4 linked regions of the Homo sapiens genome follow. The protein of the gene in region 1 purifies or fractionates together with the protein of each later gene. This does not show direct contact. Each region holds a gene or a part of one and is shown on either strand. Other genes may lie near its edges. The genes, in order: TRIM2, SRP9, SART3 and POP1.

What was found.
Region 2: the proteins of TRIM2 (region 1) and SRP9 purify together in Homo sapiens (affinity purification with mass spectrometry, with the first as the bait; one large-scale study listed by BioGRID). This does not show direct contact.
Region 3: the proteins of TRIM2 (region 1) and SART3 purify together in Homo sapiens (affinity purification with mass spectrometry, with the first as the bait; one large-scale study listed by BioGRID). This does not show direct contact.
Region 4: the proteins of TRIM2 (region 1) and POP1 purify together in Homo sapiens (affinity purification with mass spectrometry, with the first as the bait; one large-scale study listed by BioGRID). This does not show direct contact.

Annotation. Positions count from the first base shown.
Region 1 is NC_000004.12:153,209,384-153,217,062, forward strand, and holds part of TRIM2 (tripartite motif-containing protein 2), read left to right. Parts: intron 1-7,679. UniProt on the Homo sapiens protein: UBE2D1-dependent E3 ubiquitin-protein ligase that mediates the ubiquitination of NEFL and of phosphorylated BCL2L11. Plays a neuroprotective function. May play a role in neuronal rapid ischemic tolerance.
Region 2 is NC_000001.11:225,779,038-225,786,716, reverse strand, and holds part of SRP9 (signal recognition particle 9 kDa protein), read right to left. Parts: intron 3,418-7,679; coding exon 3,349-3,417; intron 1-3,348. UniProt on the Homo sapiens protein: Component of the signal recognition particle (SRP) complex, a ribonucleoprotein complex that mediates the cotranslational targeting of secretory and membrane proteins to the endoplasmic reticulum (ER).
Region 3 is NC_000012.12:108,538,623-108,546,301, reverse strand, and holds part of SART3 (spliceosome associated factor 3, U4/U6 recycling protein), read left to right. Parts: intron 1-978; coding exon 979-1,163; intron 1,164-1,769; coding exon of another isoform or gene 1,770-1,823; coding exon 1,824-1,875; intron 1,876-3,149; coding exon 3,150-3,274; intron 3,275-3,457; exon of another isoform or gene 3,458-3,490; coding exon of another isoform or gene 3,491-3,532; intron 3,533-7,212; coding exon 7,213-7,368; intron 7,369-7,679. UniProt on the Homo sapiens protein: U6 snRNP-binding protein that functions as a recycling factor of the splicing machinery. Promotes the initial reassembly of U4 and U6 snRNPs following their ejection from the spliceosome during its maturation.
Region 4 is NC_000008.11:98,125,121-98,132,799, reverse strand, and holds part of POP1 (ribonucleases P/MRP protein subunit POP1), read right to left. Parts: intron 5,206-7,679; coding exon 5,038-5,205; intron 4,436-5,037; coding exon 4,260-4,435; intron 2,823-4,259; coding exon 2,574-2,822; intron 1-2,573. UniProt on the Homo sapiens protein: Component of ribonuclease P, a ribonucleoprotein complex that generates mature tRNA molecules by cleaving their 5'-ends. Also a component of the MRP ribonuclease complex, which cleaves pre-rRNA sequences.

The sequences.
Region 1 (7,679 bases):
CTCCCTAGAGGGGCCCTGGGAGTTGTTTAGATATGCATAGTCTCACCTCAAGGCACATGCTGGGTACAAGATCCCTTATCACACCTCCAGTCCTGCTCAGCTTTTTAAGGGAGCATTTCCTGATATATAGGTCTTTAACTACCAGGTGTATTTGCCCACTGTCCACCTGTGCCTTCAAGTACCGTACTTAACAAGTTGGAACCGAGGGAATGGTACACTTCACATTTTGCAACTGTTATGCAAATAGAACTTCAATGAAATTCCTCAAACTGTTGACTCTAGAAACCGTGGGAGACAAAGGGTCAGTGTCTGACTTCACGAACGTTACCAACTTGAAAAATGAGATCTATTCCTTAGTGTGTGGGAGGAAGACATTTAAATCTGTAGTACCCTCAAAGCCTCACTCTAAACCTGGTCTGGCACTTTTCAATGTGTGTTCTTTGATATGGTAAGTAGTTAAGTATATCCCACCAGAGACCTTCCAAGGATGGGTTTTTTCCTCCATATGACTTCTCTCACTCTTTGCAGGAGAATAAAATAGAGTTTCAACTGAACTTTAAAGCTGTAACCTGATCTCAGAATCATGCACCATAAACAGCATTTGTGCTTTTCAAGATACTTTCAAATCCATATAGTTTTCCAAGATATTCCTAGTTGCCACATTGGGTGATTTAATTTTTTTTTTTTTTTTTTTTTTTTGAGATGGAGTCTCACTCTGTTGCCCAGGCTGGAGAGCAGTGGCGAGATCTCGGCTCACTGCAACTTTCACCTCCCAGGTTCAAGCGATTCTTCTGCCTCAGCCTCCCAAGTAGCTGGGATTACAGACACCTGCTACCACGCATGGCTAATTTTTGTATTTTTAGGAGAGACAGGGTTTTGCCACATTGGCCAGGCCGGTCTCAAACTCCTGACCTCAGGTGATCTGCCTGCCTTGACCTCCCAAAGTAATGGGATTTCGGGTGTGATCCACCGTGCCTGGGCTGGGTGACTTAATTTTAAATGTAGGGACATCAAGCAAAATGTTGCTGAGGAGTCTCTTTCGCAGCAAAAGTCCTGTGAAATCTGCAAGGCCATCTTTTTCATGGGTCCCCAAATGTTTCACAGGCAACTGGGCAATAATTGCATTTCCAGGAATGCCAAATGGAGCCAAATCCTTTTAATAGCTCACTGACATGCAGGTTATTCCACTGGGGACCAAAAGGAAGGAACTAGAGCTCTCAAAATATTTGATTCTTGATTTGTGCTCTTCACTGGATGATTCTATTTTCTTGAGAGCATTTTTAACGAAACAGCAGCAATCAGTGATTTCTTAGAAATGTGGCCCCTTTAAATACACTTCAGTGAGGCTAGCTCTTGTGTTTCCTGGACACTCTGTGTGTTCTGGACATACTGGAGGCACAGCATAAATATTAATGCTGGCCATTACAAAAAGAAAATGAAAAGACCCCATAAGGCAGCAGTGACCCTAGAAGCCCCAGAAGCCGTGTTGGAACTGTGACAAGGAAGGATAGTGACAAGATCTGAAAAAAGCAGCCCTCTTCCCACACTCAACACATGCAGTAAACCCAGACATGCAGGGCACCATTGTCTGAGCTGTCACTGGAGGGCTGGGAGGAGACAGGGGATGGGGCAATGGCAGCCTACCCACCCCTCCTCATCACTGTCCAGGGGCATTCAGGAAACACAGGCTTCCAATATGAGGCTGCCTTTTTTTCTCACAAGCCATGCTCACTAGGAATCCATAGCGGCCATCTGCACACCGACCTGGTGGTGTCTCAAGCTTCCAGGTGTGGTTTTGGGGGCAGGGTCCTTGAGGAAGGGGGTGCTGCTGACAGTGAGGTAACCTGAGGTCAGCTCTGGACAGGGCTGGGTGGAAGAAGAGTGTAGTGACTGCTGATCCCTGTCCTTTCTAGGAATTGGGGTTACTGGGTCAGAGAAACATCTCAATACCTTCCAGGCTTCCAAGGCTGGTTGTAAACCTGCTCCTTGATAAAAGAAACTACATCCAACCTTTAGGAGCAAGGTGGGGTAACATGGGAGCAGATCTTAGTTCATTTGTTTGTTTGTTTTTGCTTGCCTGCTTGCTTTTTTGTTTTTTCTTTTTCTTTTTTTTTTTTTTTTTGAGACAGGGTTGCACACTGTTGCCCAGGTTGGAGTGCAGTGGTGCAATCATGGCTCACTGCAGCCTTCACCTCCCAGACAGGTGATTCTCCCACCTTAGCCTCCCAAGTACCTGGGACTACAGGCATGCACCACCATGCCTGGCTAATTATTTTTTATTTTTTTGTAGATATGGGATTTTACCATGTTGCCTGGGCTAGTCTCTGAACTCCTGGGCCCAAATACTCTGCCCACCTGGGCCTCCCAAAGTGCGGGATTACAGGCATGAACCACCTCACCCAGCCTACAAATTCTTATATGACAATTTGAATCTCTGCTTGGATTTGTTTTATCCTCTCTTGTGCTTGTAACTCAAACTTTAATACTTGAAAAGTTTCATCAAAATTTAAATATACTTTTCTAAATCTGTGAGAAGGCTGTCTCCCAAGATGGTTTGTTACTGCACATCTTTTCCCCGGTAGATGGAAATATCCCTTCTCTATTCTCTTTCCCTTAGTCTTTCAAAAACTCAGTGAGGAGGAAGTGCTTGCTTCTAGCTTCTGGCGGTAGGCTACATTTCCCAGCCTGTCAGAATGGCCTCTCTGCAGGCTTCAACCCTTATGAGAAATAAAGCTGTCCTTTAGCAAAGTCATCAAGCTAAGTGTCTGTCAACAGATGATGATTAAAGTGTGGTACATATACACCATGGAATACTACTCAGCCATAAAAAGAATGAAATCATGCCTTTGGCAGCAGCATGGATGAACCTGGAGGCCATTATCCTAAGTGAAATGAGTCAGAAACAGAAAGCCAAAAACTGCATGTTCTCAGTTATAAGTGGGAGGTACACAGTGGGTATATGTGGACATAGAGAGTGGAATAATAGGCATTGGAGGCTCCAAAAGGTGGGAAGATGGAAGGGGATAAAGGATGAAATATTGCCTATTGGATATAATGTACATTACTCAGATGATGAGTACACTAAAAGCCCAGACTTCACCATTACGCAATATTTCCATGTAAGAAAGCTGCACTCGTGGTGGTGTATGCCTGTGGTCCCAGCTATTCAGGAGGCTGAGGAGAGAGAATTGCTTGAGCCTGAGAGTTCGAGGCAGTGAGCTGTGATTGCACCACTGCAGTCCAGCCTGGGCAACGAAGTGAGACTCTGTCTCTAGGAAAAAAAGAAAAAGAAAGAAAAAGAAAAGAGGTGGATGCAGACTGGAGATTTAGGAAAGCCTTTTCAGCTCCTTTCTCTTGCCAAGTCTTGTTTGTGGCTTTGGTGGGTGGTTTTGTTTGGGGGCCTGTCTTCTTTATTCCCTTTTCTTTTTTCTCTTAATCAAAGCAGTCTGTTCTGGTACTGCAGTGAAACAACTCTTTCCAGTTCCTTTGCATGGTGGTTGTGCACGTAGCCTCCAGGCCTGGGCTTGCATCAGTCATTTTGTCTATTCATACAAAGGGAAATTTAGGCTTTGTTCAGTTCATCTCCTACCAGGGCATGTACTTTCACAGCTACTGCCTGGGAAGCTTTGTGTGCATGAGATATCACCAGTCTGCCAGGCTACCAACTTGACTGTAAGTGGAGAGACTAACTGATGAAGCAATGACTGTGTGCCAGGAACTGTTCTAAGTGCTTTATGTGTATGAGCCAGTCAGCCCACTATTACTGTTCTTCTCCATTTTCAGGTGAGGAAACTGAGGCTCAGATTGTTGAGAAAATTGTCCCAAGCCGCACAGCTGGTCAGGGGCAGGCCAGCATTCAGTTTCCAGAGCCTGTGTTTTTAACCATTATGTGATGCCTCCAGGGTACATTATATTCTTTTGCATGAATGTGCAAAAATATGTCTTCATGCTTCTATTTCTGTTCATTTAACTTGTTTCAATTTTTTTCTATCACAAATAATACAGCAATGAATGTTTTTGCAATAATAGCTTATAATGATAGTTAACATTTGTCGAATCGCTAACAAAGTGATGGGCTCTGTTTCAAGTTCTTTATGCATCTTAATTAATTTAATCTTTGTAGCAATCCCACTATTATTTTTTACTTATTTATTTATTTTTTGAGACAGAGTCTCGCTCTGTCGCCCAGGCTGGAGTGCAGTGGCACGATTTTGGCTCACTGCAACCTCTGCCTCCCGAGTTCAAGCAATTCTCCTGCCTCAGCCTTCCAAGTAGCTGGGATTACAGGTGCATGCCACCATGGCTGGCTGACTTTTGTATTTTTAGTAGAGACGGGTTTCACCATGTTAGCCAGCTGGTCTTGAACTCCTGACCTCAGGTGATCCACCCGCCTCGGCCTCCCAAAGTGCTGGGATTACAGGTGTGAACCACTGTGCCTGGCAAATCCTACTATTATTACTATTTAACGAATTTAATCTTTGTAACAAACCTACTATTATTACCATTTAACAGAAGAGGGAAACGAGGCACAGGACAGTTGGCTACATATTTTGTTCCAGATTGCACAATTAGAAAGTGGCAGCTTAGCACCATAAGACATAGTGAGGAAAAAAGAAAAAAAAAAAGTGGATGGGCTGGCATTGAAACCCAGAGCTGGTACTCTTATGATAGTGTCTAGACAATATCTGTGACCACACCTCTGATTGTACCTCAAGAAGAAAGATTTTTAAAGTGAAATTACTAGAGCATAAGATATAAACATTTAAAAGGTTTTTGATACATCTTACAAAAGTGCTTTTCAATAACACTGATTGATCATGCTCATTTGCATTTCCATGAGCACTGTGTAATTGATCAAGGACTCTAAAAGTTAGATAAGCCACTGATAAATGGAGATGCCCCTCTAAGTCCCTGGGCAGTAAAACCTGACCAGCATAGCCTCCAATAACCTGCATAGTGTTGAGGAGAGCTTGGATTTAAGAGATTAAGAGGGTCAAACTCTTTTCTGTCCATTTTAAAATGCAAGTTTTATTTAAGAGGAACTATCTAATATGCTGAAGACAGTATCAGGTATCTGTAAAATTGCTTTTTGTAACTCAGAATCTTGGAACAAAAGAAACAATAAAGAAAATTTGGAACCAGAACTGTTTACCCTACGGAAAATTTTTGTCCAAAGCAGCCTCTCAGCGTTCCACATCATTTTCATCATTATGAATAACGACAACAGCAACTAAGGTTTATGTTGCACTTTTGACTGAACACATGCCTCTTTCGTATTTCTTAGACCAAGCCAGTGTTTCTTGTACTTTCCTGATGATAAGAAGTACCAAGAGGTGTTGTTAGCTAGATCGTCATAAATAATCAGGCCTCCCCTAGGTAAGTTCTGATTTAGGAGGTCTGGGTTGGAGCCTTAAATCTGTGTTTTGACAAGCATACTAGGTGTTTTTTATTTTCTGAGGATTTTGGAAACTACTAGAAAACACAATAAAATTGCTGTAGTAGGTTCTTTTTTCAATGTTAAGCTATTAACATTAGAATGCTTGCTTTTAATTGGAATCAGGTGTTAAAGAGAAAATCTACAACGATCAGTCATTGCAACAGAAGTAACAATTATATACTAGCCTCACTTAGCATTCTTCACCCACACTGGTTCCCTAAATGTACATTTCTTAATTCTCTTGAATGTCTATTATACAGGCAGATGCAACTTGCAAATCACACTAACTCGAACATACACTTCAGTGCCTCACTAGAACCCCTAACTGACATCTTTTTCCTAAGTCAGTATACCTGGCATATGCCTGGCTAAAGTGCCACTTTCTCTTGTTTAGACCCTGAAGCTGATGTAGACTGGGAACTGATTACTGAGATCTAGACATACCTCCTCCTCTCCTCCACATAGGCCCACCCACCAAGAATCCCTACATTGGAAACCCTTGGGGTTCAAGGATCATGAGTCTGGGGCATGCACCCTGGGATCACTGTTCAGAGCTGAAAATGCATTTCCCCATGGAAACATTGATGTTGATGTGGTGCCGTTTTGCTAGAGTCCAAGTACATTTTCTGGTTTTTGTGGGCTGATCTGGGCTCTTGCTGCCATTTATCATATTTCTATAAAAAAAAAAGCTCAAAACTACATTAGGGAGGGGTGCATCTGGAGTGTTTGAAATATCCCAATTCTTGTTCTGGATGGTGTTTTTACCCTGTTACTATCCCTTTGTGATATTCCGTTGAGCTGTTGCCTTAGGATTTGTGCACTTCTCTGTTTTTGAATTATATTTATTAAAAATTTCAACATATGGGGGTTTGCAAGAAAAAAGGTTTCTTAAATAAAACCCCTCCATATGGAATATAGCCTTTTGGAAATTAAAAACAGGCATTGAAATCTATGATTAATATAAAGAATAAGAAAATAAATCAATTATCATTTTTTTTCACACTGTGGATAGAAGATTTCAAAAGAAACCCTTTCATGGTTCCTTTTATTTGTTTTTTCATCTGTAATTTGAGAATTAAACATTCAGTCACACTAGTCCCAAGCAATACAGTTCAAAAAACTTTTTTGCCTGTTTTTATTTTTTTGTTGTTGGTTTATGCAAATGAGGTTTTTAGCTGGAAACTTCAAAAGCCTGACACATATTAAAAATAAGCAGATTTATGATGAGTGGGATTTTTGGCAAGCAATTGAGAAAAATCACCAAGACTCCAAAGAGAGTTGTTCTCTTTCTGTCTTGGCTTTGTCATGTGCTCTTTCTTAATATTTGGTTTGAAGCAGTGTATGGTTCTGTAATGTGACCTGGAGCCTCTATTGAGTAAGCATCCCTGGAGACTAAGAAACATCTTTCTATGCTAATGGATTAGTCAAAGAAGATCAATGTATCATCATTTCAAGAAAATATTACAAGAAAGTATGCTCTTACTCTAATGGAAGCCAGTAGCAATTTTCTTGTCAATTTCCCAGCTATTTTTTAATATTATTTTAGTACTTACTTTCCTGTGCTGACTCTATGTTCAATCTAAAATTAATTGTTTGTCCCAGTTCACTTCCTTAGTCCCTAGACTCCAGTTGCAACTTTCATGATATTCTGTTCCTCTCCTGCAGAGGGTTTAAAGGGCTGCAGAATAAGAGGGCAGCTTGTACATTCTTTTGACAAAAGGAGGCATGTCTCTCAATGCTTCCCTTAGTTTCTATCCCCAGAAGTTCTCAAGATGAATGTCCAAGTCCATTTGTGCTACTATAACAAAATGCCTGAGGCTGGCGAATTTATAGACAATAGAAATTTATTTTTAGTTCTGGAGGCTGGAAAGTTCAAGAGCAAGGCACCAGGAGGTTTGGTGTCTGCTGAGGGCTGCTCTCTGATTCCAAGGTGGTGCCGTGAGCGTCTTTACATTGTGAAGGGGATGGAAGGACAAAAGGGCTTGCTAGTTCCCTCAAGTCCTTTTATAAAGGCATTAATCCGTTCATGAAAGGGGAGCCCTCATGATCTAAACACTTCCTAAAGGCACCAACCTCTTAATACTATCACATTGGCAGTTAAGTTTCAACATACAAAGTTGGAGGCACACATTCAGGCCACAGCAATGAGATTCTGTGAGTTCTTTGATTTAGATGAACTTTGTTTAGATGAACTTTTATTTCTCCCCAACATCTTACCATGAGCACAGTCAATACAACTGAA
Region 2 (7,679 bases), on another chromosome or scaffold:
ACCAGAAGGCTAAATTTTTGGCCTAAACTTTTCCAAGGCCAAAATGCTAGTAAATGACTAAGCTAGGATTCACATCTCTTCAATCTATGTCTAGTATACTACATCTCGATTCACTCTTCCTTTTCCACATGTTTAGCTACTCACTACATTCAATTGGTTCTTAGAAGACATGGTAATCACTAAAAGGTCTAACTTCATGCAGTCTCATCATAATGGAACCCTGAACACAAATACAATATATGACCAAAGACAAAAAGTGATTTTTAAAATCACTCTATAAAATTTTCAAAAGAACTAACTATTTAAAAAATGTTTACTGAGTGCTCTCTGGGTCAAGACATCATAGTAGGCAATGGAAATAAGACATGTAAGAATATTACTGATCTATCTCTATTGTCTTGAAGGGCAGTCTATTAAAAAGACAAATGTGATAAAAGAATTGTGATACAGCACAAAAAGCCAAAATGAAAAGCAAGAAATGAAGTAATCCTCAAGTTGGGTTTTGAAAGATAAGCAGCAGTCTGGCCACATTAGGGGTGGAGGTGGGATTCAATATTGCAAAGGAGGAAACAGAATGTTTGAAAGCACTGAGGCCTAACACATCACAGCACATTAAAGGAGCTCTTACATAATACAGAAATGACAGAGATTAGAGAGGATGCAAGGGTGGAGTTTAAAGGTTTCTAAGCAAGGGAGTAACAATCAAATTAGCCTTTCAGAAATCACTCTGGGGCTGGGCGTGGTGGATCACACCTGTAATCCCAGCACTTTGGGAGGCCGAGGTGGGTGGATCGCTTGAGGTCAGGAGTTCAACTCCAGCCGCCTGGGCGACATGGTGAAATCTCATCTCTACTAAAAATACAAAAATTAGCTGGGTGTGGTGGTGCCCACCTGTAATCCCACCTACTTGGGAGGCCGAGGCAGGAGAATTGCTTGAACCCGGAAGGCAGAGGTTGCAGTGAGCCAAGAATGAACCATTGCACTCCAGTCTGGGTAATAGAGCCAGACTCCTTCTTTAAAAAAAAAAAAAAAAAAAAGTCCAGGCACAGTGGCTCACGCCTATAATCCCAACACTTTGGGAGGCCAAGGCGGGCAGATCACGAGGTCAGGAGTTCGAGACCATCCTGGCTAACAGGGTGAAACCCCGTCTCTACTAAAAATACACAAAATTAGCCAGGCGTGGTGGCGGGCGCCTGTAGTCCCAGCTACTCAGGAGGCTGAGGCAGGAGAATGGCGTGAACCCAGGAGGCAGTTTGCAGTGAGCCGAGATTGCGCCACTGCACTCCAGCCTGGGCGACAGAGCGAGACTCCATCAAACAAACAAACAAATAAAAAGAAAAGGCCAGGCGCAGTGGCTCACCCCTGTAATCTCAGCACTTTCAGAGGCCAAGGTGGGTGGATCATGAGGTAAAGAGATGGAGACCATCCTGGTCAACATGGTGAAAACCCCGTCTCTACTAAAAAAAAAAAAAAAAAAAATTAGTTGGGCGTGGTGGTGCACGGCTGTAGTCCCAGCTACTCAGGAGGCTGAGGCAGGAGAATCACTTGAACCCAGGAGGTGGAGGCTGCAGTGAGCAGAGATCGCCCACTGCACTCCAGCCTTGCAACAGAGCGAGACTCCGTCTAAATAGAAATCACTCTGGGCTGTGCACTGTGGCCCATGTGTGTAATCCCAGCAACTTGGGAGGCTGAGTGGGAGGACTGCTTGAAGCCAGGAGTTCAAGACCAGCCTGGGCAACATAGCGATATCCTGTCTCTAAAAAAATTTTTTTAATTAAAAAAAATCCCCAGATTTCTGACCACGTGGAAAATAATGCAACTAAAGGTAGGAAGGTAGGAACAGAAGAAGCAGCTAGTTTTTTTGTTTGTTTTTTTGAGATGGAGTCTTGCTGTGTCACCCAGGCTGGAGTGCAGTGGCACGATCTCTGCTCACTGCAAGCTCCACCTCCCAGGTTTATGCCATTCTCCTGCCTCAGCCTCCTGAGTAGCTGGGACTACAGGTGCCCGCCACCATGCCTGGCTAATTTTTTTGTATTTTTAGTAGAGATGGGGTTTCACCGTGTTAGCCAGGATGGTCTCGATCTCCTGACCTTGTGATCTGCCCACTTGACCTTCCAAAATGCTGGGATTACAGGCATGAGAAAGAGCTAGTTTAAGAACAGATGATAGGCCGGGTGGGGTGGTTCATGCCTGTAATCCCACCATTTTCGGAGGCCGAGACGGGTGGATCACGAGGTCAGGAGATCCAGATCATCCTGGCCAACATGGTGAAACCCTGTCTCTACTAAAAATACAAAAAAAAATTAGCTGGGCGTGGTGGTGGGTGCCTGTAGTCCCAGCTACTCGGGAGGCTGAGGCAGAAGAATGGCATGAACCCGGGAGGCAGAGCTTGCAGTGAGCCGAGATCACACCACTGCACTCCAGCCTGGGCGACAGAGCAAGACTCCGTCTCAAAAAAAAAAAAAAAAAAAAAAAAAAAAAAAAAAAGAACAGGTGATAAACTCCACTGTAGATAAGTGAATTTTGAGGGTATGTGAGATACAGATGCTAGTCAGAAAGTCAGAAGAATATGAACTAAACACACATTTGCAAGTAGACATAGACAGATGCAGTATTAGACTCAGTTAAATGAACTGCTCCAGAAGCTGTTATGAAAAGACAATCAAGGACAGAATCCTAGAGAAGCACATATATATGGGGCACATCAAAAAAAAAACAATCAGCAAAGAAGAATGAAACAACAGAAACACAGAATAGTAAGGCCAAGATAAAACAGAACCACAAGTGCCAAAATAATTATTTCTATGAAAGAGTGGGCTTCTGTATCAAAAGCAGCAAGGAGGTCAAATAACATATGAATAATAAGACCACTGGGTTTGAAAAGAAAGGAGCTGCTGATGTGCTCTCACAAAGAGCAGTTTCGCTGGAGTACCATATGCAGAAAACAAATGGCAGAGGGTTAAGGAATGAATGGGATATGAGGAAGTAACAAGAATGAGCATATCAAAGACAGGAAATACAATAAAGCCTGTAAGTTGTGTTCAAACACTGTCATTTAAAGGAAACTTTTACTCCCTTACATCCAATTTGGTCTCTACATTTCTGTTGCTTAAGGTCTGAAGACAGCACTTATTAAAGACACTTGACATAATGCATTAAGAAAGCAGGTTAAATAATTTCCTGAGGGTCTATAAAAGTAGCTGCTAGAATGAGGTTCTTCATCTTTAAATGAAATGCAAAATAAGCATCCTAATGGGTAATCTCCATAAACTCTAAGTAAATAATTTCAAACAAATAATTAACTCAAACAAATCTGAAAGTATGTAACAAATAAAAATGTATACTTACAACTAAATCATCTGTTACTTTAACACACAAGTTCCCATCAGAATGCCTATATTTGAGAACCACACGTGCCTGAAACAAAAATACATATTTAGAAACAGTGAAGACAAATGACATTTCTTATAAATAATTTAGTCTTCAGGTAGGCTGAAAAGGATCCTTTTAGAATAAATACCCCCAAACATCTAAAGGCATTTTTACTATAAACTAAACCGAAATGAAGTTAAAAAAAAAATCAGCTATTTTAGTTCATTCCTTTGCTACCATTTATTTAAGACTTAAAAAGTTGGATATTTTATTTGCAGCCAGTTTGAAGAGATGTACTGAACATTCTCAAAACACATCCACATTCAGGGAATGTCTGTGAGACTTATAAGGTGGCATTTCTTGCCAATAAGAATATACACCAACACACCTAGCCACAGAGGAATGACAGGAAAGGGAGGAAAACATTTAGCAGAAATGGCTAGTTAAAAAGTCCAAATCCATTCATTAGCAAACAGTGCTGCAGGTCAGTGCAACTCACACTTTCCATTTTTCCACAAATCTTAGCAAGCAGATTCAGACTAAAATATTCAGCAAAATCAGGTCTTTATCACGAAGGTAGAACATAACGCATTATTACATAAAAGCAGAATTCTGCCTTGAAGTCTCCACCAACAACTTTTCCAAAAACCAGAATAACTCCTATACTGAAGTTCCATGTTACACAATACTTTATGTTCAATATTCTACAGATTGCCAAGGCATTTAGATATTAGCATATTCCTATAAGACATCTCCCAAGAACACTTCCACGAACATTATTTTTTTTCAGTGATGGATTCAAGCACAGTGTATCGCAGTTTTTCCCTAACCAGTATCAGTAACTCTTGTTTAGCTAGCTGTTTTAAAAACTGCTAAGTATCGGCCAGGCGCGGTGGCTCACGCCTGTAATCTCAGCACTTTGGGAGGCCAAGGCGGGTGGATCATAAAGTCAGGAGATTGAGACCATCCTGGCTAACACGGTGAAACCCCGTCTCTACTAAAAAATACAAAAAATTAGCCGGGCGTGGTGATGAGTGCCTGCAGTCCCAGCTAATCGGGAGGCTGAGGCAAGAGAATGGTGTGAACCAGGGAGGTGGAGCTTGCAGTGAGCCGAGATCGCACCATTGCACTCCAGCCTGGGGACAGAGCGAGACTCCATTTCAAAAAAAATAAATAAATAAAATAAAATAAAATAAAAACTGCTACTTATCTACAAGCCAGAACAGAAACATAATTTTAAAATGGTTACAATCTAGCACCAGAGGCCTCAAGACAATTCTGGAAACTAAATAAAAAGGGCTAATGGAACTGCAACCTACAGCTTTCCCCATTACGGTCTTTGCATTCCTGAGACTGAAAAAAAAAAGTTACATCACTATATGCGATTTGTCTGAGTGAAGGAGGAAAGGGAACTCATCAAGCATTTAAGCAGGTATAAATAGTAGTAACTAGGTTAATTATCTTTAGAATACCTGATTCTATTTATTTATCTAGTAAATTCAGTTTTACACATTTTAAAAATTCAGTTCTCTAGAAACGAAACACTTAAAAATATACTAAGCATGACAACTATGTGAAGTTTTAACTCTCAGTTAAAGGAACACTCACTGGTTTCATTTAGGAGAAATGAGAGTTAAAAGGCCAATCATGGCTGGGTGCAGTGGCTCATGCCTATAATCCCAGCACTTTGGGAGGGCAGGAGTTCACTCACGAGGTCAGGAGTTCGAGACCAGTCTGGCCAACATGGTGAAACCCCGTCTCTACTAAAAATACAAAAATTAGCTGGGCATGGTGGTGGGTGTCTGTAATCCCAGCTACTCGGGAGGCTGAGGCAGGAGAATCGCTTGAACTCGGGAGGCGGAGGTTGCAGTGAGCTGAGATTGCACCACTGCACTCCAGCCTGGACAACAAAAGCAAAACTCTGTCTCAAAAAAAAAAAAAAAAAAAAAGAAAAAGAAAAGAAAAAAGGCCAATCGTGTTTATAAAAGGGTCCATTTGGTAATTTAGAGGGTGCCAAGTCACCATGTCAGATGCCATAAAGAAAGAAAAATCAAGGTTCTTTACCAAAAATAACCAAAACACAAGGACAGAATGAATTAAGTCCTATAAAGGGATATACAGATAAAATGCTAAAGAGAGAAAACAAGTAACTTAGACTGGGAAAAAGGAAAGTCTAAAAAAGGAGGTGGCTTTGAAATGCTTTTTTTGTTTTAACCTTATAGAAGAAGGCAGAAGAAAGGCTAAAAATCATTCTGAACAAGGATACAATCCGGTAGCTTCATGAGACTAGAGCTGAAGATCATGAAAATGGTGAGACAAAGCCAGAAAGACTGGAGATGGGTCAGACTGTGACTGGGAGTTGGGACTATATCCAGTTATCAAAGAGCCAGTTTTTAAGCAGGAGATGAAGAATTCAACTTTTGTTTTTTAGACAGTTGTGGCAAGAGTGTTAAGGAACTAAAAAGGCTGACAGACCAACAAAGAGGTTATTACATAATCCAGTGGTAATGCCATCTTCAATTACAGCAATACAAGACAGAGTGGTAAAAAGATACTGGGTATAATCAACAGGTTAAATGTGTTGCGGAGAGAAGACAGAGAATTTTGGAAAACAGATTCCAGAGACCTGACAAAATTTGTTCTTTAGCCCTAGCAGAAAGAGAATGGACTTGGGGTTCAAAGATCTGGGTCCAAATTTCATCTTAATCTCTCAAGAAACTAGGTATATCACTTAACAGATATAAAATCATTCATTTATATACTTTGATGGGTTGCTGTAATTGTTCATATATTATGTATAAATCTATGTAAACACACATAAATATATATTAAATGCCTGTAACATATAAACATATGTAAAATGCCTGTCACGTAGAGGCGGAGGTTGCAGTGAGCCAAGATGGCGCCACTGCCCTCCAGCCTGGGCAACAAGAACAAAACTCCATCTTGGAAAACAAACAAACAAAAAAAACTGTTAAGCTCTTCCTCTACACTCATCCTCTCCCCTCTCAACATATCAGTCAAGCCAGGCGCCATGGCTTGTGTCTGTAATCCCAGCTACTTGGGAAGCTGAGGCAGGAGAATCACCTGAGGCAAGGATTTAAGACCAACCTGGGCAACAAAGCAAGAGCCCCGTCTTTAAAAAAAAAAAAAAAAAAAAAAAAAATTAGGCAGGCATGGTGGCATGTCTGTAGTCTCAGCTACTCAGGAGGCTGAGGTGGGAGGATCACTCGAGCCCAGTTCAATGGTGCAGCGAACTGTGATTTGTGCCACTGCACTCCAGCCTGTGCCAACTGCAATTTTCTGACTGGGTAAGAGGTGAAATATTCTCTTTCTTGTCTATTCTAGACATGCTTTGCTCACAGTGATGCTCTAATTATTTTCATTTTCCCTACCACTGCCATCACATTCTTACAGTACAGTTACTCTTGATGTGAATTTATATATTCTTTACTGTTGTCTCAAGTATTTTTAGTTTATACTGTGGGTACTTCTGGATAAAAGTCCTGTGTGGTCTCAGAGTAGCATTGTCTGAATGAAGAAACAAATGACCCTGCCAACAAGGGAAGCTAACCAAATGAAGCAACCAGAAGTCACCAGTGTTATAAACAAATTACTCAATTTAAAAAATACAATTTCCATCATTTATTATTGTATCATTTTATTGTAAAAAATAGAAGTATGTTTTACAGCTTGTTACTTAGCTAGGTCTTTCTGTGGGTCTAATACTATTTTTAATCATAATTATCAACATTTCTTGCTGCACACTTTAAACTTATATGCACTATAAACTGTATGTGGCATTGGAGTTACAGGTTACCAGCTCACTGCATACACTTAAAACATAATTCATATTACTTAATGATCATCAATAGTTTCACACAGTAAATCCTGAGCCCTGGGCTGGGCGCAGTGGCTCACACCTGTAATCCCAACACTTTGGGAGGCCAACGCGGGTGGATCACGAGGTCAGGAGTTCCAGACCAGCCTGGCCAAGATGGTGAAACCCCGCCTCTATTAAAAATACAAAAAATTAGCCAGGTGTGGTGGCAGGCGCCTGTAAACCTAGCTACTCGGGAAGCTGAGGCAGGAGAACCGTTTGAACCCAGGAAGTGGAGGTTGCAGCGAGCTGAGATTGAGCCATTGCACTCCAGTCCGGGCGACAGTGCGAGATTTCGTCTCAAAAAAAATAAAACTATTGAAAAAAAAAAAAAAAGATCCTGAGCCCCGGTTTTCCGAGATTTTATCTGCTTTTAATTTTCTTTCTTCTCCGAGGGATACAGTCACAATACACTGGATCTATAATA
Region 3 (7,679 bases), on another chromosome or scaffold:
CTTGAACCCAGGAGGTAGAGGGTGCAGTGAGCCGTGATCATGCCTCTGCACGCTAGCCTGGGCGACAGAACGAGACTGTGTCTCAACAAACAAACAATTTCCCCTTTCAGATTTCGTACCCTCTTCCTTGTTGATTTCCCAATGGGAGCAGTCCCCCTGTGAGAAGCATTGCTACTAACCAGATAGACTGTTCTGAGATGATAGAGAATTTTTTGTGTATCTTTACAAGCCAAGAAGAATTCACAGTTTTTTGGTTTATAATCTGAATAATGAAAATAAGCGGTGTTTTATGAATATAAAACTATATTATATGTGTGTTTTTTTTTTTTTTTTTGAGAGAGAGTCTTACTCTTTCGCTTAGGCTGGAGTGCAGTGGTGTGATCTCGGCTCACTGCAACCTCCCCCCTACCCAGGTTCAAGCGATTCTCCTGCCTCAGCCTCCTGAGTAGCTGGGACTACAGGTGCCTGCCACAACGCCTGGCTAATTTTTCTATTTTTAGTAGAGACGGGGTTTCACCATATTGGCCAGGCTGGTTTCGATCTCCTGACCTTGTGGTCCTCCCACGTCAGTCTCCCAAAGTGCTGGGATTACAGGCGTGAGCCACCGCACCTGGCCAAATGTGTTTTTAAAAACTATACCTGTATCTCTGCTCTGTGGCCCATGAGTCTTCTTTTAGAGCCACTGATAATTTTAGCAGTGCATGGTGTTCCCATGATTTCTGATGATCCTGTTACCCCCTTCTTACTCTCTCACAGGCATTGTTAATAGCACCATTTATCTTTTTCTGAGGATCTATGGTCTTCCCCAGACTGTAATGTTTTTTAGTCCTTTATGGTCATCTCTGCTGTTAGGCCTTCACTGTCATTTAGTGCTGCTGTCTGAGTACTTTTTTGGTAGGCACATTTCGTTTGTTATGCATCAGTTTTGATATTTGGGTATTTTATATCCCAAACTAATTGAACACTTCTTATTTTTAGGTCCTAACATTTGGCTAGAGTATGGCCAGTACTCAGTTGGTGGGATTGGTCAGAAAGGTGGCCTTGAGAAAGTTCGCTCCGTGTTTGAAAGGGCTCTCTCGTCTGTTGGTTTACATATGACCAAAGGACTCGCCCTCTGGGAGGCTTACCGAGAGTTTGAAAGTGCGATTGTGGAAGCTGCTCGGGTGAGTACCTGTGGTTGTCTCTGAACGGGTTGGGGCTGTCTTTGTAAGTCTCCTTGGAAGGATTATTTTGAAACACATGTCCATGATGAATCTTGCAGTTCATATAGTTAACAAAATGGTCTTTGCCAATCCCTTAGTGGTGGGGTGATAGATAACCTTTTTTTATACCCCTTCTAGCATTTGGTACAATATGTATGGAAGAGGTCGTATAAATTTTTTTAGCTTGAACTGAAAATTTGTTGAGATATTTTTTGAAGTAGAAAGAACCAGAGTTGGCCAAGTGCGGTGGCTCATGCTTGTAATTCCAGCAGTTTGGGAGGCTGAGGCCAGAGGATCACTTGAGTTCAGGAGTACAAGACCAGCCTGGGCAATGTAGTGAGTCCCCATCTCTACAAGAACTAAAACATTAGCTGGGCATGATGGCGTATGCCTGTGGTCCTAGCTACTCAGGACTCTGAGGTGGGAGGATTGCATGAGCCTGGAGTGTGAGGCTGTAGTGAGTTGTGATCACACCACCACACTCCAGCCAGGGTGACAGCAAGAACCCTTCTCAAAAGAAAAAGAAAGAACCACAGTTTGTCATTTACTACTAATTTGCTTCTTTAGCCCGTAGCTGGCTTCCTTTCCCCTTTTGACCGGGAACAAACCTTTGATTCACAGCTTGAGAAAGTCCACAGTCTTTTCCGGCGACAGTTGGCGATCCCACTCTATGGTAAGAGAAACTGACATGTCAACAGCCAGCCCTCTATGGTTTTTAAAATGCTTTGGGGAACAACATGTAGTTAGACCTTTCCCACCATCCTGTGAGGCAGGTAAAGCTGGTGTTCTTACTCTCCTTGGATATTGTCTCTTTGGATGAGGTCCTTGGTAAAAACATCTTGAATGTTAGTGCTTAAGAGGGTTGTGAGGGTCAGAGGCAGGACTGGAAGCCAGACTCCCTGACTCCCAGGTGAGAGCTCTTTTCTCCTTTGAGACCTAGTTGGAAGGGCAGAGATAGGGTCTCTGAAAGGAATAGTGAATGACACCTGTATTTTTTGGGGAAACTTCATTGAACAAGAGTTCCATTATAATCATTTTCTCTTCACAAGTAACCTCTTCCATAACAGCAGGAATTTTACATGAGTTTAGATCATTCCTCTATGGGAGGGATTTGGTTCAGAAGTGCAGTTGATTGGAAGTACTCATAAGTGAGTTTCTTGGGGTTTGGTAAAGAGTTTCCTTATTTGGTAAATACATTTTGGCAATCTAAGCCTTTGAGTCTTTGGAGCTATGAGTGTGTGCGTGCTGGGAGGATTTTTCTGAGTATGGGAAGAGTTTGTCATGGCTGTTGTGTTTGTTCCCTAGACACGGGCATGTGTTGTACATACTCAGAACCTCTGGGCAACTTTACTGGAGCCCACATGTTATTTCTCTTCATGGTTTATTGGATTTAACAAGTTATAAAGTAGTCGTCTAATCAAATGGTTGGGTATCATGCAGAAAACACTAGAGCTGAGCCGGCTTGCAGATTTCACCTACCAGCGTGAAACAACCTAGCATAATGATTAGAGTGCGAACTTGAGCCAGACTGCTTGGGTTCACAGCCTTGCTCTACCATTAACTGTAGACGAGCAACTGAACCCTCTGCTTCAGTTTCCTCAACTGCAAAATGAGGATCACAATAGACTACCTTGTAGAGTGGGATGACTGAATGAGTTAGTGGATGTGAAGTGGTAGAACATAGGTAACACTGGGTAAGTGTTGTTAAATCGTTGCCACTAGTGTCATTGACTGATTAATTAGCTGGGAGGGTTGCCTGGGACATTGTTTTAAGACAGATTCTACAGACAGGTTTGGGCTCAGCAGAAATCAGAATTTGATCAGTAAGAGCTGCCATGCCACAGATGTGGGAGGGGCTAGTGGCACCTGAGTCTCATGGCTTAATCTGTGTTTGGGTTGATAAAGCCCAATGGCAAGACCCACGGGGCTGAATCCATCTTTCAATAGATATGGAGGCCACATTTGCAGAGTATGAAGAATGGTCAGAAGACCCAATACCAGAGTCAGTAATTCAGAACTATAACAAAGCACTACAGCAGCTGGAGAAATATAAACCCTATGAAGAAGCACTGGTAAGTGTTGGCTTCTTTTATAGTAAACGTCTCTCTACAAACCTTTCCCTGATGGATAGTTGCGAGTTAAACAGTATCTTTAAAATGTTTTATTCTGAAATATATAGAGTGTATAAATGTATACGTACAGTTTACATACTAATAATAAAGTGAACATCCATGTACCTACCACCCAGGTTAAGAAATAGAACATTGCCAGTACCTTAGAAGTCTCCTATGTGCCCCTCTCCGATTGCCTCCTCCTCCCTCTCCCGAGAGGTAATCACTTTCCTGACTTTTGTGATGATAATTCCCTTGCTTTTCTTTATAGTTTTACAAGCTATGAAAGTATCCTTAATTAATATATTGTTTAATTTTGCTTGCTTTTGAACTTTTATATATTGGAATCATGCTGTATATTTTATTTTCATTGAACATGCTTTTGGGTTTTACTCATGTTGCTAAGTATAACTCCGGTGCATTTGTTTTCACTGCTGTAAAGTTGTCTGTGTACTGCGATGTATTTATCCATGTTGCTGGATAGTTGGGTCATTTCCAGGTTTTTGCTAGGAGAAGGAGCAGCGCCACTCTGAACATTCTTGTGTGTATCTCCTTGTACACATGAAAAAGAGTTTCTCTAGAATACGTACTTAGGAATGACTTTGCTGGATCATAGGGTGATGTTAAAGTGTTTTCCAGGTTATCAGTTTGCACTGCTGTGAGCAGTATCTGAGAGTTCTCGTTGCTTGTGCCAATCTTGGATATTGGTCATACTTAAATTTTACTTAATTTGATGAATTTGAAATTGTAGTTTTAATTTGTATTTTCTTGGTTACTAATGAAGTTGAGCATCTTTTCACGTGGATTGGCCATTCAAATTTTTGTGCGTGTTAAAGTGTTCAGGCTGGGCACAGTGGCTTATGCCTATAATCCCAGCACTTTGGGAGGCCAAGGCGGGAGGATTGCTGGAGCCCAGGAGTTTGAGATCAGCCTGGCAGCGTAGCACAACCCTGTCTCTACCAAAAAAAAAAAAAAAAAAAAAAAAAAAAAGCCGGGCTTGGTGGCATGTGTCTGTAGTCCCAGCTTCTCCAGAGGCGAAGGTAGGAGGATTGTTTGAGCCCAGGAGGTCAAGGCTGCAGTGAGCTGTAATCATGCCACTGCATTGTCACCTAAGTGACAAAGCAAAACCCTATTTCTTAAAAAAAAGTCTGGGCCGGGCGGGGTGGCTCATGCCTGTAATCCCAGCACTTTCGGAGCCCAAGGCAGGTGAATCATGAGGTCAGGAGTTTGAGACCAGCCTGGCCAACATAGTGAAACCCCGTCTCTACTAAAAATACAAAAAATTAGCTGGGCATGGTGGCGGGCGCCTGTAATCCCAGCTGTTTGGGAGGCTGAGGCAGGGGAATCGCTTGAAGCCGGGAGGTGGAGGTTGCTGTGAGCCGAGATCGCACCACTGCACTCCATCCAGCCTGGGCAACAGTGTGAGACTCCGTCTCAAAAAAAAAAGTCTTTGACCCATTTCCCTTTTGATGTATCTTTTTTCTAATTGATTTGTGGGAGTGCTTTGTCTTAAGTCTTATTTTAGGCTGTATGTGTTGCAGATTTTCTCCCCAGTTGTTTGTCTTTTCACTTCTTTTTTTTTGAGACTGGAGTTTCGCTTTCACCCAGGCTGGAGTGAAGTGGCGTGATCTCGGCTCACTGCAACTTCCGCCCCGCCAGGTTCAAGCGATTCTCCTGCCTCAGCCTCCCAATTAGCTGGGATTATAGGCCCTTGTCACCAAGCCCCGCTAATTTTTGTATTTTTAGTAGAGACGGGGTTTCGCCATGTTGGCCAGGCTGGTCTCATACTCCTGACCTCAGGTGATTCACCTGCCTCAGCCTCCCAAAGGGCTGGGATTACAGGCGTGAGTCACTGCAACTGCCTTTTCACTTTTTTATTTTTTAACAGTGTCTTTTGATGAACAGTTCTTAGTGATCAATTAGATTAAAATTCTTTCCCTTTTGGTTGTGCTTTTGTTGTGCTTATTTAAAAAATATTCCCTACTTAGCTCTAATTTCTTCTAAAAGTTTTATAGTTTTCTGTTTCATATTTAGGCCCTCATCCACCTGGGATTGATTTTTGAGTGGTATGAGACTGCGTCTGGTTTCATTTTTCCATATGGAGAACCAGTTGTTCTAGTACTGAGTTTGATCATTCCTTCTTCCCCTCACTGATGTGCAGTGCCACATCTGTCATAGATTAGCTGTCCATTTATGTGTGGGTCTTTCTTCTGGATTTTCTGTTCTGTCCCACTGGTTTATGTTACACTGTTGTAATGATGAGAGTTATAATGTTTTGCTCTTGGATAGGGTGAGTCCCATCCACCTTTTTCCTCTTCAAGAGGATCTTGGCTTTTTTTTTTTTTTTGCCTTCAATGCTTCCATCGGATTTAGAATCAGCTTTTCTAGTTATATTTTTAAAATCTTTTTTTTTTTAATTGGAATTGCATTGAACCTGGAGATCAATTTGGGGAATAATTTACATCTTCCAATCTATGAACATATATAGGTTTCTGCTACTTATATCTTGTCTTTCTGTAAAGCTTTATAATAATATTATAAATTTGTCCAGTGTCTTCAACACTTGACCTTTAGAGTCCCCTGCAAGGGAGATTTGCTGGTAACAGATTTTCTGTGTTCAAAAAGGTCTTTGCTTCCCTTCTTGAAAATTATTTTCTTAGGCTATAGAATTCTAGACCGACAACAGCAAAAGAATTCTAGACGGACAATGTGTCCTCTCAGCAATTGATTGTATCTTTCTGTCTTCTGATGTCTGTTGTTGCTGTTGAGAAGTCAGCGGTTTGTATAAATCTTGCTTCTTCAGAGGTAGTCACTTTTTTGTCTGACTGCTTTTAAGATCTCATTGATTTGGTTTGCTGTCCTCTAATTTCACTGCAGTAGGTCCATGTGTGGACTGGCTTGAAGTTTTTTGGGCTTCTTGACTCTTTTTTTCTATCTTTCTTTGCCAACAATAGGATTGTGAAGGTCAGATTCTTAATATACGTCAAGCCAGCAAAAGGTTAATGTTTACTTAGCTTGCCACCCTCATTTAGATTTTGTCCTTAGTCCTTAGTATTTCTTGTTTCTTTGCCAGTTTGTTGATGACTTTTAAGAAGATATTATATTTAATTTAGCAGTTTTAGTTGTTTTGAATGGTACAGTGTGTCTGGGTAACTAATTCTTCCTCGTTACTGGAAATGGAGGCCCTGAAACATCCCCTTTCTACATATGGAGTCTGTGTGTTCTCTTACTCTCCTGCACTGCTTCATCCTTTCTTTTTCATGTGTAAATGATTTGCATGTACCTGTGCTTCCCAAAACTTCGATCATTCAATTATGTCATGGCCATCAGCAAAATGTGCCTGAAGAGAAAACATGTCGAATAAGATTTTTTTCTAAAAAGAATTTGATTGTATGTCTTTGGATCATTAAACATTCAGCACAGCTGCCTTCATCTTCTGCATTTATCTACATTCTTCCAGGAACTGATATTTGGAATAAGAAACCTGAAATAGCATCAGGCACCAAAATTTTCCAGTTTGGTTGTATTAACTCTACTCAGTAGCCCAAGAACATGACTTCTGGTTTGGAAGGGTGGTTGACAGTGGTCACTGGCAAAGGTGTTGCTCTTTCACTCAGTTCCTGATTGATGGGCTACTTAATTCCCTGTGGTCTAGGAATGGATTTAGAAAAGAGTTTATGGAGCCTTTGTAGCGACTGCCATGAACTGGCACTTTGGACCAGATGAGAAGACTCTTGTTTTGCTCAAGAAGTTGTAGAGGCCATAGTGGAGTGGTTCTGAGAGTGAGGATTTGGCGATTCATAGTTACTGTAGCCAGTTTTGCCAAAATTTATTTTATTTGCAGATGTGTTGTGCTTCCTGCCAGTAACTAAATTCAATACAATTTTCCTGTACTCCAGTTGCAGGCAGAGGCACCAAGGCTGGCAGAATATCAAGCATATATCGATTTTGAGATGAAAATTGGCGATCCTGCTCGCATTCAGTTGATCTTTGAGCGCGCCCTGGTCGAGAACTGCCTTGTCCCAGACTTATGGATCCGTTACAGTCAGTACCTAGTAAGATCACTGTTCTAATTTCATTTTATTTTTGCCAATTTAGAATCTACTTAAAATCAGTAAGAGTGCCAGGAGTTTGTTGCATACGGCCCTACTCTTGCTTTTCCTCCATCTGCTTTTTCTCCTCTTTGCCAACTCGTTTAGAAAGTTTTAGTGTTTCAAGTTATTTAAAAATGGTCACTAACTGTAAGTAAAATGAGCATATTGTCTGTGTTGAGGACTTATAACAACTTGATATTTTTCTTTTAACTTTTTATTATGGCAAAAATGTAAACATATAAAAGTAGACAGATCAGTAAAATGAAACTTCT
Region 4 (7,679 bases), on another chromosome or scaffold:
CCATGCCTGGCCTATAATAGTTAATAGTCATTGAAGGGTTACTGAGTGCCAGCAATGAGTTAACTCCTTACATGAACAGTCATTTAGTCTTCCTGACAACCAGATGTACCTAGTATGGTTATCTTATCTGACAGACAAGGACACTGTGACACAGAGATTGTTACTTGAACAAAGACACAGTCATTAAGTGGAGAAGCCAGCATTCTAATCAGGCTCAGTGATCTGCCAAACCAACCCTTCTGCTATAGCATCTTTAAGCAATTTCAGTGCACTCAGTAACTAGAACTAAAAGGGAAATTATAGCTATGATTCTGACAACGCATGTCAATCAATATGATCACTCACACAAAGAAATCTTCCCATCCAGTGACCAGCTCTCAGCTGTCAGTGGCCAGAGGAACCTCACCCAAACAAGTGACAGCAGAGAATAATGGTTCAGAGTGTGGAACCCTGGAGTCAGGCAACTGGGCTCAAATCTGAACCTCAACACTCATTGGCCATACAATCATGGGTAAACTACCTAACCTCTCTGTACCTCAGTTTCCCCATCTGTAAAATGGAAATAATGGTAACTCCTTACTTCGTACTATTCTGAGGATTAAATGAGTAAACACATGCAAACCATTTAAAACAGGGTAGGGCATATATTAAGCACTCACTAATATTTGTTATTATTAGCTATTAGTTTTATTACTTAGGGCTGATCAAATTTTAGAGAAAATATCTGATAACTTCAGCAAAAATTATGCCCAAAATGAAAAGTAACTCATTGGCAGAGGACAGTGGAAAAAGCACAAGCCAGGGGAATCAGCCACCCAAGTGCTATGTAGGCCACCAACAAGCTGTGTGAGCCCAGGCAAGTCACTTCATCTCTCCAGAACCCAGCTTCCTCAATGTGAATGAGGAACTTGACTATTATCTATGATTTCTGCTGCTGAGTTCTCAAATCAAAGACTCCTAAAAGGTCCTCTTATTCACTTCACACTCATTAGAATGACTGTGATCAAATAAATAAATAAAGTAACAAGTACTGAAAAGGATGAGGAGAAATTGGAACCCTTGTGTATTGCTGGTGGGAATGTAAAATGATACAGTTGCTATGGAAAATGGTAAGGCAGTACCTCAAAAAATTAAACATAAAATTAACATAGAATTATCATATGATCCAGCAATTACACTTCTGGGGATATATTCAAGAGGACTGAAAGCAGGGACTGTAACGATATTTGCATATCCATGTTCACAGCAGCATTATTTACAATAGCCAAAAGGTGGAAGTAAGCCAAATGTCCACTGACAGATAAATGAATAATCAAGATACGGTATATACCTACAATGGAATACATCTTCAGCCTTAAAAGGGAAGGGAATTCTGACACATGCTACAACACGGATGAATTTTAAGACATTATGCTAAATGAAATAAGCCAGTCACAAAAAGACAAATATTGTATGATTTCACCCCTATGAAGCACCTATAGGATCAAATTATTGGATAGACAATAGAATGGTGGCTGCCAGGGGCTGAAGGAATGGGAGTTAGTGTTTAATGAGTCGAGAGTTTCAGTTTGGAAGGATAAAAAAGTTCTGGAGATGGATGGTGGTACTGATTACACAACGTAAACGTACTTAATGCCACAGAACTATACACTTAAAATGGTCAAATGGTTTTGTTATGTATATTTGACCACAATTTTTTAAAAAGATTCTTGTATTGCTTATTCTACCACATTACTCTCAAGGGGTATCAAAGGACACCAATAGTAATGGCTTTCAAAATTTGGCCAAGGCCATTCTGCCACTGAAAGATAGGCCCTTCTGCAAAGAACAAATGTCTAAGTATGTATTGGAAGAAATAGAAAGCAACTGAATTAGCTTCTGAGAGGAGGGAGCAATCAGATAAATACTATTAAGAGGCTCTAACATAATCTGTCCTCTCAAAGCGTTTAAAATTTAAAACATCCTTCCCAGCATCCCACTGACCCATAAACACCTAGACCAGCATTCTGAACCCTGTTCAGGGTACACAGTTGATTCTCAAATATCTGTTATTGATGAACGACTGTTAGATTAATCTATAGTGAATAAAACTTGACATGATCAACAAGACCTGCACGACCTGGTTCCTACTCTTTTCTCTAGGCTAACCTTGCCCTGATGTTGCCTTGTTCTCCTTCTCTTCTTCTCTGTCACACAGAATTGATTCCAGTTCTTCACTCTCACCTGGCTTCCTTCTGCCTTCCCCCTCTCCTCCCATCTTATCCCTTAGAGCTCAGCTCAAACAGCACTTCTGGGGGACGCCTTCCAGTTAGGTTAGAAATGCTCATCATACTGTATGCTTTTCCCTTACAACCACATATCTGGTAAATCGTTTGATTAATGTCAGTCACCCCCCTAACTTTAGGCTGCCTGATCTCCAGCATCTGGCAAAGGACCCGGGCTTCATGCTCAGGAATTATTTTTAAAATGAATAATCACATAAACGGGGCTTGGCACATCATAAACTATTCTAAAGGCCTCTATGGAAAAGGATCAAACAAAAATAACAAAAAAAGCCCACTGGAAAAGCTCACCTGCAGGAGGCACCGGTTCGTCATGGCTCGATAGCAGGCTCTGTGGCTCTTGACTGTTGGCCTCTCCCCAAGGCAGTAGCCCCACTTCTTGACCATATGAAACCGCTTGGCGTGCCAGATGTGAGTTTCTAACCAAATGTTCTTCTTTTGTCTACGGTTAAATTCTAGCGTCCGGTTCATGTGACATCTTCGAGCTTTATGGCATTTATTTTTTGAATGTTCTTTTTTCTGATGTACGGCTTTCTCCGCCTATAGTTTCAAGTAGAGGGACATATCCCAGTTTGTAAGAATCTCAAAACAGAGTTAACGGTCAGGAATGCAAACAAATAACTTTAGATTAAGTGGAATATTTTATAGATCCCATTAGTTTGCTTAAATTGTTAACTTAGTTTCTTCAATGTAAGTAGAGAAGGAAGACAATGGAAAGAGTGAATGTTTTAGAGCTAGGAGACCTAGGAAGGAGGCACAGTTCCATCACTCACTAACTAGGCAAGTTTCATGGAATATGAAGATCAGAATACTTATAAAATGTTCAACACAGTAACACAAGCTTAATATGGCTATTAGTATTAGAGGGCAAGAAAGAAGAAATCAAATGCTAGCTTCTTGTTGTCATTTTAACCTGTAGAATTGTAACTAAAACCAAAAACTTAAGACCAAAAATAATACAAGTGAGGAAAACCCATACATTTCATCTCAGTTAAGCTACAGACATACACATGCTGAATGCTATCACTGGGAAACAGATTTTATATTAAATCTAGAAAGTATAAAATTCCTTGTTAGTTTTCCCTCTTGAACTCAAACCCCACCACCAGCATAGCAATGGTACATAGAAGGCTGCTCAATAAATAGGTTTTAAACCAATTAGTAAAGACATGGGCTTAATCTTAGAATGTTCAAGTCTAGAATTCTGGTGAAGCCAAAACACAATTAGACTTGTACAAAAATTAAAACCCAGTTCAAGTTTTCAACTTCGAAAAAGTCAGAAAGCAAATGCTAAGCATTGACATTGCTTTTTTTTAACCTTCCTACCCCAAGCTGGGCACACCCTAGAAACACAGATCCAAAACCACTCGGTAAGAGGGTCAGAGTTTTTTTTTAACATCTGGGAAGGGAACATCAACTATTCAACACCCTTACAAGAGAGGAGTATCAAATCCTATATTTCAAAGCACCCATAATAGCCAATTGCCTGTGAATTTCGTTTGAAGGGAAGAAGTTTGGATAATGATTAAATCAAATATATGCAAAACAAAAACAAAAACCATAAGGGTGATGTTTTCTGAGTTTTTTTTTTCTTTTTAGACAAGGTCTCACTGTCACCCAGGCTGGAGTACAGTAGCATGATCACAGCTCATTGCAGCCTCAACCTCCCCTGGCTCAGGGTACCCTCCCATCTCAGTTTCCAAGTAGCTGGGACTACAGGCACACATGTACCATCACGCCCAGCTAATTTGCGGATTTTTTTGTAGAGACAAGGTTAGGCCATATTGCCCAGGCTGGTCTTGAACTCCTGGGCTCAAGCAATCTGACCACCTCAGCCTCTCAAAGTGCTGAGATTACAGGCGTGAGCCACCATGCCCAGCCTTGGTTTTCATTTTTAATAAATTCTATTAGGTCAATACTTCTCAATTTCTTCTAGGAGCTACTAATCTAAACATTTACACTAAGTGGAACTCCTACCTCTTTCTGGGCAATCTCCTGTAACCGTCTGGGAAGGCGTTTGACGTTGTGGCTCATGGCTCTTCGTCGCATGTGCCGTGGCAGAGTCTGAAAAACCAGTGAATTCGAAGACTTCTGGGTCACAGCTTTTAACATAGCACTGATTTCAGCAGCTCGTGCTTGAGCAAAAGTAGAAGCTGTTGAAGGAGATGACAAAGTCATTAAACACCAATCTTGAATTAACATTGGAGAATAAACAGGCTGCTGGGGAAACTTAACTGAATTCCTCCACCAAGAAGGCGTAAAGAGAGACCAGAAAGCATATCTAAGGTATAGGTACAAGGTACAAGGAATATAGGGTTTAATTGTGGTAGTGTGGATGGGGATCATAGGGTGAAGAACAGAAGAGGATGGAAAGGGCCTGGAGACAGGCCCTTTAAATAAAGGTTTGGTTGCCATTTGTGTGTACTCAATTTTCCATCCTTGGAGAATGCTGTGCTGAGTGTGGATGGCATATTTAAAACAAGAGGGGCACGGGGGCTAAGACAAAGAGGAACAGTTCACAAAGACTTGTAAGAAGAAGAGTAAGAGACAGGGAGAGAAACTGAAGAAGGGAGAGCCATCAAGCCCAAGGAAGCTCTGGCCAAAGTCCAGGCTAGAGGCGAGAAGGGTCTAAAGTAGGAGGAGGAGAGGAGAGGTAGGGGAGGCAGAGCCAGGACCACAAGGAGGGCAGTTTGTTGCTGCACTAGACACGAGAGTTCAAAATACAAGCAAACTGCACCTCTTTATGAGTACCCACCAGTTATATACTTGGGGATCTCCTGAGACGTGCCCTCGGGACCTGCTTTCCATCCTCCCTTTTTTCTAAACATCCCTTTGGAGGAAGACTGCTCATTCACTTCAGGGTCAGGCAGAGAATGGGGGTTGACTCTGGTTTGCCGCTGTCGTGAAGTTCCAGGATGAGGCTCTAGTATATTTTCAAAAAGAAACATGTCACCTTTATCAGAGATAAACATTATAGTGGAGAACTAATATTTGTTGGGTGGCAACATTGACCATGTTTTTAATCCTATAGTCACCCTGTAAGGTGGCTATTACTACTTATTTTTAAAGAGGAATCTTACGTAGGAAGGTGAATTAACTTGCTCGAGGTCACAAAGCTAGTAGGTAGCACACAAGGTAATCATGTCAGGATGACATATAAAGGACCTTGGATATAACAGATACAGGTGAAATTTTCTCCTATAAACGGTGCAACATGAATTTCAAATCTAAGCTCCCTGCTATGGTCTGAATGCTTATGTCCCCCAAAATTCCAGTGTTGAAATCCTAACCCCCGAGGTGATGGTATTAGGAGGTGGGGCCTTTAGGAGGCGATTAGGTCATGAGGGTAGAGCCTTCATGAATGAGATTAGTATCCTTATAAAGGAGTGCTCACAGAGACCCTCGCTCCTTCCACCATGTGAGAACCAGTGAAAAGGTGCTGTATATGAACCAGAAGGCAGGCCCACACCAGTCACCAAACCTGCCCGCTCCTTCATCTTGGACTTTTCAGCCCTCAGAACTGTGAGAAATACATTTGTTATTTATAAGCTACCCAGTAAGATACAGGTTGTGTATCCCTCATCTGAAATAACTGGGACCAGAAGTGTATCAAATTCCAATTTTTTTGGATTTTGGAATATTCGTATATATATAAAATGAGATATCTTGAGGATAGAACACAAGTCTAAAGACAAAATTCAATTACACTTCTTTCGCCTTATCATACACAGCCTGAAGGTAATTTTATACAATATTTTTAATAATTTGTGCATGAAACTTTTTGCACATTGTATACTTGAACCATCAGAAAGCAAAGGTGCCACTATCTCAGCCACCCTGTGGACAATCTGTGGTTGGCTGGCATCAGCATCCTTCCTGACTCTGAATCTATATGCTACTGATAAGCAATCACTTTCTTACACTTACTCACATGTAAGTATTTAACAGTAAAAATTACATGTATTTTATTTGTCTTTGTGGGTGTGCTTACGTGGTGAAATCTGGGAGTGCTTGGAAATATTTATATCACAGCTGAAGGGGGCTGGGAACATCTTTTTTCCCATGGGAATGCTGAATAAACTGTGTGTTATATGCCTTCATTCTGACTGTGACCCATCACATGAGGTCGGATGTGCAATTTTCCACCTGTCATGTCATGTCGGCGCTCAAAAAGTTTTGGATTTTGGAGCATTTTAGACTTCAGATTTTTGGATTAGGAATGCTCAACCTGTATTTTGTTACAGCAGCCCAAACGACACTCCCTTAATACTATAATCCACATGATTGTGTACAGTCTTTTATCCTAACTCTCTGCCACACTCAAATTGAGAGCCACTATACTAAATAAATAACTAAAAGCAAAGTTCCAGGATGGATGTGGTGGCTCACACCTCTAATCCCAGAACTTTGAGAGGCCAAGGTGGGCAGATCACTTGAGTCCAGGAGTTTGAGACTAACTGGTCAACGTGGCAAAACCCTGTCTCTACCAAAAAAAAAAAAAAAAATTTGCTGGGCATAATGGCACATGCTTGTAGCCCCAGTTACTCGGGAAGCTGAGGTGGGAGGATCACCTGAGCCCAGGAGGTCAAGGTTGAAGTGAGCCACGATTGTGCCATTACCCTTCAGCATGGGTGACAGAGTGGGATCCTGTCTTAAAACTTTAAAAAGCAAAATTTCCAGCCAGGCACAGTAGCTCATGTCTGTAATCCCAGCACTTTGGGAGGCCAAGGTGGGTGGATTGCCTGAGCTCAGGAGTTCAAGACTAGCCTGGGCAACATGGTAAAACCCCGTCTCTACTAAATACAAAAAATTAGCTGGGTGTGGCAGCATGTGACTGTAGTCCCAGCTACTCGGGAGGCTGAGGCAGGATAATTGCTTGAACCCGGGAGGCAGAGGTTGCAGTGGGCCAAGATCGCACCACTGCACTCCAGCCCAGGCAACAGAGCAAGACTCCATCTCCAAAAAAAAGGCAACATTTCCATACAAGTGTCTGGGCATTATGACTATAAGACAACATTAAATATCTGTCTGTGGCCGGGTACAGTGGCTCACGCCTGTAATCCCAGCACTTTGGGAGGCCGAAGCAGGTGGATCACTTGAGGTTAGGAGTTTGACACCAGCATGGCCAATATGGTGAAACCCTGTCTCTACTAAAAATACAAAAATTAGCCAAGAGTGGCAGCACACGCCTGTAGTCTCAGCTACTCAGGAGGCTGAGGCAGGAGAATCGCTTGAACCCAGGAGGTGGAGGTTGCAGTGAGCCGAGATCGCACCATTGCACTCCAGCCTGGGTGACAGAGCAAGACTCTGCCTCAAAAAAAAAAAAAAAAAAAAAAAACTGTCTGTAAATTAAGGGAGAGATCAGTAGAGAATTTTATAGTGTTTCTGCTTATTTCA